Linked DNA regions of Homo sapiens: region 2 is linked to region 1. The links come from fine-mapping of genetic effects on gene expression. A gene starts in region 1. The other region holds a variant in brackets. All regions are shown on one strand. Distances are from middle to middle.

What was found. PIP is the estimated chance that this variant, and not a neighbour inherited with it, causes the effect.
Region 2: its variant is the best candidate, but not a certain one, in a credible set for the expression of ASF1A in whole blood (INTERVAL, PIP 0.64).

What each region holds. Positions count from the first base shown.
Region 1 is chr6:118,892,044-118,897,425 of GRCh38, reverse strand. It overlaps ASF1A (anti-silencing function 1A histone chaperone), which reads right to left and starts at 3,274. Exons shown (of 4, transcript NM_014034.3): 1 at 2,904-3,274. The coding sequence starts at 3,012. All of the region lies in intron 8 of MCM9 (minichromosome maintenance 9 homologous recombination repair factor), which reads left to right. RefSeq lists silencers at 2,080-2,609, 3,400-3,539 and an enhancer at 2,990-3,079.
Region 2 is chr6:119,115,905-119,121,286 of GRCh38, reverse strand. It overlaps a transcript of FAM184A not described here. Among named protein-coding and RNA genes, the nearest start is that of FAM184A, 40 kb to the right of the region's middle. The variant C/G (reference allele first, on the strand shown) is at 2,120.

The DNA.
Region 1 (5,382 bases):
ATGGTCAATCAAAACTTGTACAGTCTTGGTGACCATCAAGCACATCCAGCCAGGGTCTCAGGCTGTCTTAACCCTTGATATAAGCCCTATATTAGAAAGAACCAAATTATCTTAAGACCAAATATTCCTCAAGGCTTTTTCTGAAGCAAAGCTACAGGGCAGCTCTTAAAGGAAAGTGAACGTTTGGGGCTACTGATGAAAGTATGAAAAACGGTGGCCAAACTCTGCTTTGAGACTTGAGGCAAAATAACTTATTAAGAAAATTCTTTTCAAAATATTCTATAGTTTGGGCTGGGTGCAGTGGGCTCACTATAATCACAACACTATGGGAGGCAGGGGTGGGAGGACTGCTTGAGCCCAGGGGTTCGAGACCAGCTTGGGCAACATGGCAAAACTCCGTCTCTACAAAAAATTAAAAAATTAGCCCAATGTGGTGGCACATCGACTATGGTCCCAGCTATTCAGGAGGCTAAGGTGGGAGGATTGCTTAAGCCCAGGTTGAGGCTGCAGGGAGCAGCTGTGTTTGCACCACTGTACTCCATCCAGCCTGAGTGCCAGAGCAACACTGTCTCATTTAAAAAAAAAAAAATTCTATAGTTTAATTTTAAGAACAGAATTTTTAAAAGAACTGTAATATAAAAGTATGGAACCTATTAGAAGCCTTTGCTAAGTAAAAATTTCCTTAATCCACATAGCCTCTAGGTGGAGTATACAGGCATGGCACCTTTTTGAAAGATTCCTTTGCAGCTTCAGTATGACTCAGCTTAAAATATTTTTTAAAATACTAAATAAATGCTCAGTAATGGTGCCTAGGAAGTGAAATATACCATTGGAAATAAGTATGTTTTTGACACCAGTACTGTAAATCCCTGATGTGATTCAGCTGGGTTCTGAATGGATCCCAGTTAAAAATGGAACGTTTTGGCTTTATGAATGGCTGGTTTCATCTATGCAATGTAAAAGCCCTGTAACGACATCCTGAGTCATCTATCTTCTTTGTTCAGAGCTGACTCCTAAAATGGAAGGCAACACTTGAGAAATACCTGTAATTTGAAGAACTTCTGGTGGTATATCTGAAAAACAGTGTGGTATAAGTTGGAATGGACCGATCAATGGTTTTTCTTTTGTCTATTTTTATATGCAGTTGGCAATAAAAAAAAAATTACTGTTGGGTGTGAAAAATGGGCCTGGTAGCTGCAATGCTTATATTAATAGTAGTATCATAGGAGAGTAATCAAATGACTTCAGAGTAATAAGAAAAATACCCCTTAGTGTTATCAATGGCCTATTTGAAATTATTTTAATAAATGAATCATCTTTCAAAATTTGCCCTATATATGTATGTGCATTTATGCTCTATATAGGTTTAAAAAAAAAAAAAAAACGGGGGCACATGTTAAAGTAATAATTGTGATTACCGAAAGGAGATAGGGCAAGGCACTGAGTACAGAGAACTGTTAACTTTATATATGCCTGTACAACTTTCTAAAAGTTTATTACAATGAATATATATTGTTTTATAATTAAAATTAACCTTACATATGATATATACATTTTAGAGATTAAAAACTAGTTTTTAAAATGAAAAGTTTTACATGCCACGATTACCTAAATCATCTTCAATGCATTTTTTACATATACTTCTAGTTCAAAGTATGTCCCTCATCGATGAAGTTAAACTATTTCCCCTTCAAAACTGGCAAATGAAGCACTGAATTACTTTAGTAAAAGATAATTAAAGCAAAGATAATTGTCGTTTTAGCTTTCTAAATATTTATTACTAAAGATATTAAAAATACGTATTTTTAAGACCTTAAAATATATGTAGAAAAAATACCAAGAATTCTTGGACTGACATGAGGAGTTGACCTTAATTTCCTAGCCTACGTTTGTGTTTTATGTTTAGGGTGTGTTCTGTATTTGGATGTGGAGTTATTTTAGATTTCAACACGGTCTTGAAGAAAGTCTTCCTTCAGACTATTTATAAGGCAGAGATTAAGTCCTGGAAATTATTTAAGTATCTTATTTCTGCTTTTAGGTTAAATGTAACTTCCTACCTCAGCTCTATTTCTCTTCCTGAAATTAGCTTTTCGTCATTAGGGGAAAGGAGTCCACGTTGGTTGGGGAGCCTGCGCGCCAGCATCCCGGCGCATCCCGGGCGCCGGCCGAGGAGGACCGGCCGAACAGGACCCACGGCCCCCGGGGAGCGCCGGCGCCCAGCCCGCGGCGCGGAGGGGCCGAGCCTGCGCCCGCCTCCCCCGCTGGTTGGTCGAGGAAGCCAGAAATCAGCGCGAGGACAGCCTCGCTCTCCTCCCCGAAGCGGCCAGGCATGGCCAGCCCGGAGAGTGCGGCGACTCCACCGTGAGCTCTCGAGAGTGCCTGCCTGCCTTTCGCCGGGGGCAGGCGGGCGGCGGGGCAAGAGGAGGCGCCGTGCGCCGGGGTCGCTGGCCCAATTCTCGACTCGGGGTAAGATGGCTCCGCTCCGAACTCGCCGGCGCGACCACACGCACAGCCTCTCCCTTCCCAGCCTCCGTGCTCGGGCCCGGAGGGTCGCGGAGGCTGTTGGCGGCGCGGAGCCAGCCCGGCGCGACCTCAGGCGGCGCAGCGGGAGCGAGTGCGGGTCTCCGAGCTGCCCGCCCGCAGACAAAGCTGACAACATGGCTACCTCCGCTCCTCCGCTCAAACAAGTTCCTCGCAAGTTGAGCCCGGCAGGCGCCTGGGCTGCGGCGGAAAGCCGCGCGCGCCTCGGCGGCCGTCGTCCATCAACTTCAAGTTTCCCTCCGCAGAGCAGCCCGCGGCCGCCAGGCGCCGAACACAGCCGCCCAGCGCGAGGCCCGGCCCGGGAAACTTTCAACGTCTGCAGCCCGCAACTGACAGCCCGGGCGCACGGGCGCCGCACTCACCTTCAGACAGGTCCTCGATGCACTCGAAGGTGATCTCGAACTGGAACGGGTTGTAGAAAGGAGAAGGGTTATCCAGCACCACTACATTGTTCACCTGAACCTTTGCCATATTTTGAAAAAAACACAAACAATGGGAACTGGGGCTGGTTGCGGCACAATAAAGTCCAGCGCGCGGCCGCTCGGGAGAGCGCAGACCCCCGCTCCAGCGCCGGCCAGACGTCGTGCAGCGGCGACTTGAGAAACTTTTTTCCTCTTTTTATTTACACGGGAGCACTCCACAGTGTTTTGCAGCTTTCCTATTTCACTAAACTACAGCCCATTCTGCTCTGATAAGTAGCAGCGTTGCCCTCGATTGGCTGCACCCGAGTTCTGACCCTCCTCCTCCAGCGAGGGCCTCGGCAGCCAGCAAGATGGGCTCCCGCTCCCGGAATGGACTCGGAAACTTTAACTGCGGCTCCACCTGCTGGTGTGGATTAGGACAAAGGCGGAGAACAAAGTGAGTGGAATAAGGGCTGGGAGGCCCGCGCGGAGGCCGCCGGCGGCGGCGCGGAGAGGGGCGGAGGGGGCGTGGCCGCGGCGGGGAGGCGTGGCTGCGGCGGGAGGGCGCGATCCGGCCGACGCCCGCCCCTCCAGTTGGCTTCGTGTGGGTGTTTTGGCGTTTTTTTGTTTTTTTTTTTGTTTTTTTGGTTTTTTGATTTAACGCTCTTTTTACATCAGTGCAACAGCTTTGCCGGCCTTGCTGAATTTAGCAGATGAGAGTCGGTGTTTACACTGGGTTAGGTTCAGCTTTCTGCGTATCGGGTAGTATTTGGAGTAGAGAGAAAGATTGGCTGCAGGGGAAATAAATTGCATGTTATAGACCGATGTCAGCTCGAAAGGAGCAAAGCCATTTTGGAAATCTAGCTCTTGGCCAGTATCTACGTTTAGGCACGACAGCGCCGTTAAGCAACACAAAATGAAGGGCGAGGAATGATTTTCTACACACTGTGCTTGGAAAATTTAAATAGGTAACCTTTGGGCTTGCACCTGGGCGTCTTCTTCGGAGTCCAGATCTGGGAAGTCCTAGAATAAAAAAAAATCACAAGAGGTGTGATCAGTTATACTTCAGGTTACTGCCATTTGGAGAGCATAGCAGGAACATAAAAGGAGAAAATGGAAGTGTTAGGAGACCAACAGGGCAACAAACGTAATAGAGATGGGAAAAAGAACACAAAGACATAGCAAGACATTTGATCTTCAAAAAAATTTCTGACCTAAACCGTTAGTAAAGCAAATTCTGAGGAGCCCTTGCTTGCCTGTAACCAGTTGAGGTCTGAACTGAGGAAATGTTGATTCGTTTATGCTGCTTGGCTACCATTGCGGGGAAAGAGAAAGCTTTAACATATTTGTGAGCCTAAACCGTTTCTATTTAGTAAGTGGTATAAAGGTTTGTTTTATTATCTGCTAGCCATAAACCATCATTTTTTTCCTTAAATGTTGTGAATGAAACCACCAAACTTGGCCAAATTCAGAGAGAAAATTAATTCTTAAGTATGTGTTCTGGAAGAGTTTTCTCTTAGTATAGTGCCCAGAATTTTGATTTGTCATTCTTTGGTCATTGTTCATACTTAAGTAGGTGGCTTTTGATGAAACGTTTTCATCTGATGGTCTTTTGAAAGTTAATGTGAGACAGCTAATGTCAACCCCTCGTACATTTAGGAAAACCGGTTAGAGTGGGGAAGAGTTCCCTTTTTTTGTCAGTGGATTGAACAGTTAGATATAGGACCTACCAAAAAACACTTCTTCAAGCCAGTTGTTTGTGACATTAGAGTATTAAGAGTCAAACCATGGTGATAGACACAGATTTTTGTGGCTGATAAACAACATACTCTTCATTCTTATTAGTGCTGGTCCTAACACTAGCAGATAAAGTGGAAATTGCTGTATGCTGTAAGACACTCTGTATATGTAAGATAAAATGACCATTTGAAGATTAAAACTCCTGTGAGACTGGTGTATGCAGTTGTCTGATTATTACAGGTACTCTTAAGAGGAGAGTCTAGTCAGTCTCATGAAAACGACATTTTATGCTTGTTAAAATCACGTGCATTTTGCAGTCTGACCGTAAGTGTTACAATGAGACTAGTTGTAAAACTCACTTTTGGTGGATGTGCAGCATGAAGGACTGAGAAGATCTACCTGAATGCCACTAATTTGGCTTATTTTCTTTAAAATTTTTTGTTTAACACATCATATGCAACAGTATTTAAGAAGAAAAAACTCCCCAACATTTCACTGGAAGCTGCAAGAATTAGCTCCAGGCTTCTCCTGTCTTAACTCTTGTATTATTGCTTGTCAGAAATACTAAAGGGTCGTTGAGCACTTTGTTCAATAGTTTCCTCACCATTGATACTACCTTACTCCAGGAGAGACCGAAAGGATTCCTCAGATATGTCCTGGCATATTTCTAATTTAACTGGTATGCTGTAGGAAAAAAAGA
Region 2 (5,382 bases), 220 kb before region 1:
GATGACATGCACCTGTAGGCCCAGCTACTTGGAAGGCTGAGGTGGGAGGATCTCTTGAGCCCAGGAGGTTGAGGCTAAAGTGAGCCATGATCTTGCCACTGCACTCCAGCCTGAGTGACAGAGTGAGACCCTGTCTCAAAACAAATGAAAAACTTTCCTATTAAAAATATAATACAGGGCTAGGTGTGGTGGCTCACACCTATAATCCCAGTACTTTGAGTGGCCAATGTGGGAGGATTACTGGAGGCCAGGAGTTCAACAGCAGTCTGGGCATCATATCAAGACTTCATCTCTACAAAAAAAAAAAGAAAGTTTTTCAGATGCAGTGGTACCTGCATACAGTCCTAGCTACACAGGAGTTTGAGGCAGGATGAGCATGCCACTGCACTCCAGCCTGGGCAACAGAACAAGACCCTGTCTCCTAAAAAAAAAAAAAAAGAAAGAAAGAAAGAAAGAAAGGAAGAAAGAAAGAAAGAAAGAGAAAAACCATCACTTTATTTTAGTCCATAAAATTGAGTGAAAAAAAAAAGTAATACATTTCTCCACTCAAATAGAAACAGCTCTGCCACTAGATCCTATTTCACACCCATTAGGATGGCTGTATTTAATAAGACAGACCATAGTAAGTGTTGATGAGGATATGGAGAAATTTGAACCCTCATACGTTGTTAGCGGGATTGTAAAATAGTACAGCCACTTTAGAAAACAGTTGGGAGTTCCTTAAAATGTGAAACATAGAGTTACCATATGACACAGCAACTCCACCTCTGTGTATATACTCAAGAGAACCGAAAACATTTGTCCACACATTTGAACACTAATACTGATGGCAGCATAATAGCCCCAAAGTAGAAAAAACTCAAAGGTCCATCAACTGAAGGACAGTGTCTATACAATATGTAGTGTGTCTATACAATGGAGTATTATCTGGCCATAAAGAGGAATGAATATAGATACGTACTAAAACATGGATAAACCTTGAAAACATTATGTTTCCTGAAAGATACAGAATACCATATATTGTATGATGTCACTTCTATCAAATGTCCACCACAGGCAAATCCGTAGAGAAAGTAGATTAGTGGTTGCCAGGGGCTGGGAAGAACAAGCGGATTATGAGTAACAGCAAATGGGTGCAGGGTTTCTTTTTGCAGTGATGCAACCTTCTAAAATTAGATGCTGGTGATGCTTGCACAATTCTGTGAATATGCTAAAAACAACTGACTGTGAACTGTATACTTTAGAAGAGTGAATTTTAGGGTACGTGAATTATGTCTCAATAAGACTATTATTATTATCATTTGGGGCAGGGTCTTGCTGTGTCACCCATGCTGTGCTGCAGCGGCACAATCATGGCTCACTGCAGCCTCGACCTCCTGGGCTCAAGCAATCCTCTCAACTCAGCCTCCTGGGACTACAGGCATAAACCACCATGCCCTACGAATTTTTATTTTTTATTTTTTTATTTTTTTGTATTTTGTAGAGACAGAATCTCACCATCTTGCTCAGGCCAGTCTTGAACTCCTGGACTCAAGTAATCCTCCTGCCTCTGTCTCCCAAAGTGCTGGGTTTACAGGCATGAGCCACGACACCTAGCCTCAATATAGCTATTACTTTTTTTAAAAAGGCAAAAACTGATGACATGTTGGAGAAGTTTTTTCCAGTCTCTTTTTTTCTTAATTTTATAGTTGTGGTTATTTTGTGTTCATATACTAACAATTTTTAAAGTATGCCATCTTATTACAAACTCATTATCAGGGGAACCTGCCCCCGATTTCACATGGGTTCTTTTCTATTTTCCCTAAGCACTGGCCGGTTTGAGAAATAAAGGGACAGAGTACAAAAGAGAGAAATTTTAAAGCTGGGTGTCCGGGGGAGACTTCACATGTCGGTAGTTTCTGTGATGCCCCCTGAGCTGTAAAACCAGCAAGTTTTTATTAGTGATTTTCAAAAGAGGAGGGAGCGTACGAATAGGGTGTGGGTCACAGAGATCACGTGCTTCACAAGGTAATACACTATCACAAGGCAAATGGAGGCAGGGCGAGATCGCAGGACCACAGGACCGGGGCGAAATTAAAATTGCTAATGAAGTTTTGGCACGCATTGTCATTGATAACAT[C/G]TTATCGGGAGACAGGGTTTGACAGCAGACAACCAGTCTGACCAAAATTTATTAGGCGGGAATTTCCTCATCCTAATAAGCCTGGGGGCGCTATGGGAGACTGGGGCTTATTTCATCCCTACAGTTTCGACCATAGAAGACAGCCGCACCCAAGGGGGCCGTTTCAGAGGCCTACCCTTAGGGATGCATTCTCTTTCTCAGGGATGTTCCTTGCTGAGAAAAAGAATTCAGCGATATTTCTCCCATTTGCTTTTGAAAGAAGAGAAATATGGCTCTGTTCTGCCCAGCTCACTGGCGGTCAGTTTAAGGTTACCTCTCTTGTTCCCTGAACACTGCTGTTATCTTGTTTTTTTTTCAAGGTGCCCAGATTTCATATTGTTCAGACACATATGCTCTACAAACAATTTGTGCTGTTAACGCAATCATCACAGGGTCCTGAGATGACATACATCCTCCTCAGCTTACGAAAATGATGGGATTAGGAGATTAAAGTAAAGATAGGCATAGGAAATCACAAGGGTATTGATTGGGGAAGTGATAAGTGTCCATGAAATCTTCACAATTTATGTTCAGAGATTGCAGTAAAGACAGGCGTAAGAAATTATAAAAATATTAATTTGGGGATCTAATAAATGTCAATGAAATCTTCACAATTCATGTTCTTCCACCATGGCTTCAGCCAGTCCCTCTGTTTGGGGTCCCTGACTTCCCGCAACAACTCATGAGAAACATAATAGCTTTATAAACTCTGTTGAGATCATTTCCCACAATAATAAAGGTAACTATTATTGAGTGTTTAATATGAGCTAAGTATTATTCTAAGCCCTTTATATATATTGTCTTATTTAATACTGACAACAACTTTAGGAGATCAGTGATTTTTATGCTCACATTTTACATAGGAAGAAATGAATGTTAAATTAATTTTATAGCTAGTGAATGGTGGAGCCAGTGTACTGTTTTACATTCACTCCAGTTTTTCATTATTATAAAAAATAAGAATTATCCTTGATTGTGGAAGACCAAACTTCTGCATCTATGGAAAGGTCCTGGCTTAATTAATAACTGCAGGTCAGAGCTTCCCATGCCCCAAAGGCCATATACAGCAATCCAGAAAGCAAAGTTTCTGCCTTAAAATCTGAGTGATCTTTGGTGTCACTTCATCTCTTCTTGACCCTCTGGGTGATCCAGAATTTAGACCCTGCCTCCAGCTCTCTGGTCCCTGACTGCTTCTCTCCTGTAACTGAGTCCCTGACTGGTCCTGCTTCTGGGATACCCCCACCCCTGCCTGTTTCTCTCAACCCTTGGCTGGCTAAACTTGCACTAAAAGGCAGACTCCACACACCTAGCTAAACTTTCAGGTCCTACAAATCCTCAACCAATTAAATTAATCACTAAAAAGGAGGGTTCAAGTCCTCCATTTCTAACCATGTGAACTAGAGAAGCAACCTCTTTGAGTCTGTTTTGTTATCTGTAAAAAATGATAATCCTACTGTATACTTCACAGGGTTGTTTTGAGGTTCACCTAAGATAAAGTACTTCATAAACCGTGAAGGTACGTAAGAAGCAGGTCTTACCTCTGAGTCGCAGGCATGTTCAAAGCAATGGGGCCTCTGACAGCAGCAACAGAACTGATATAGCCTCTCAAGGTGACCACAGTGGAAGAGGCCGCCTGGGTTAGGGTCCGATTATACATTGCTGTACTCAAATGTATTGTGTGGCAGTATGGCCTACTGACAACTTTAAGTACGAAAAGGACTAGCCAGGAAGCCCTGCCAGGGCATTGCTAATTGAACATTCTCTACATGGATCTCACTATTTCTTCTTCCCTCTTCCCTGTTTCCTAGCCTAGTTAAGGGCACCACTATGTACATGGTCACCAAAATCAGAAATCTGTTGATCATTCCTGATTCCCAGTAGTCCAAGTTAAAATCCCAAGAGTTTGTTTCTCACTCTCTCTCACCCTTACACACAAAATGATCCACAGACTTGTCTCCCAAATCTATGCCCACTCCCAATCCCCTAGCCTTGGTTAATGTCCTCCTAGCCTCCAAACTCGATGATTGCAATCGTGTCCCCTGCTGGTCGCACCTGGTAGTTCTACTTGGTCACTCACCAATTCTCCTGAGACCTGAATAATATTTCTAAAATGCAGATACTATCCTGTCTGGGAGGCTTTCCTGTTTTCCAAAGGATAAAGTCAAAACATTTAGAATGCCATACAGAGCTCATCTCACATACACACACTTCCTCCCCAGGGTCCTCTTCTGGCCTCTGCTTCCTCTCCAGATGCCCCTTACTCTTTACAAAGGGACTGTGGATTGTTTTCAGAATACACTATGCACTTTCATATATCTGTGATTTTCCAAATACTGTTCCCTAAGCCTGAAAATTCCTCCTGTCCTCCTTAATCCTTCTCTGCTTTGAGAGAGTCTTCTTCCCTTTGAGATCCAGTCAATGCCAGTTTTATGAAGTCTTCCACAGGCAGCTGGACACTCATTTCTCTGGACTTGCACAGCACTGTGGACATTTATCGCCTTGTAATGTTTTTATTGATTCACCTGCTTTTCTCCTCCACTAGACTGGGATTTGTAATAAAGAGCCTGAGTCTATTTTTTATGTCTGACTACTGAAAGTTTTCTTTTTTAAAAACAGGTTTCAACTTATTGTAGATTAAGGGTACACATGCAGATTTGTTATATGGGTAAACTGTGTGACACTGAGGCTTGAGGTCCCAACGATCCTGTCGTTCAGGTCATAGGCATAGTACCCAACATGGGGTCCTTTAGCCCATGCCCCCCTCCCTCCCTCATCTAGTGATCCCCAGTGGCTATTGTTCCCATCTTTATGATCATGTGTACTTAGTGTTTAGCTCCCACTTATAAATGAGGACATGCGGTATCTGGTTTTTTGCCTTTGTGTTAGATCACTTAGGATAATGGACTACTGGAAGTTTTCAAGCCCACCAGTCCCTTTTCCCCTTCTGCCCCCACCTCTGAGCAAGCCATTACAAAAAGCCATGCTCTCTCTCCTTTGGAGCTGATAGGAAATTCAAACCCTCAACAGGGAAACCCTCACTGTGGCCCCATCTCCTAACCACCATAAAGCCCCAAGACAGTCTCTAGTCCCTGCTCTCTCTCTCTCTCGTTGTGTGTGTGTATGTGTGTGTGTGTGTGTGTGTGTGTGTGTGTGTGTGTTTGAGACGGAGTCTTTCTCTGTCACCCAGGCTGGAGTGCAGTGGCGCCATCTCAGCTCACTGCAAC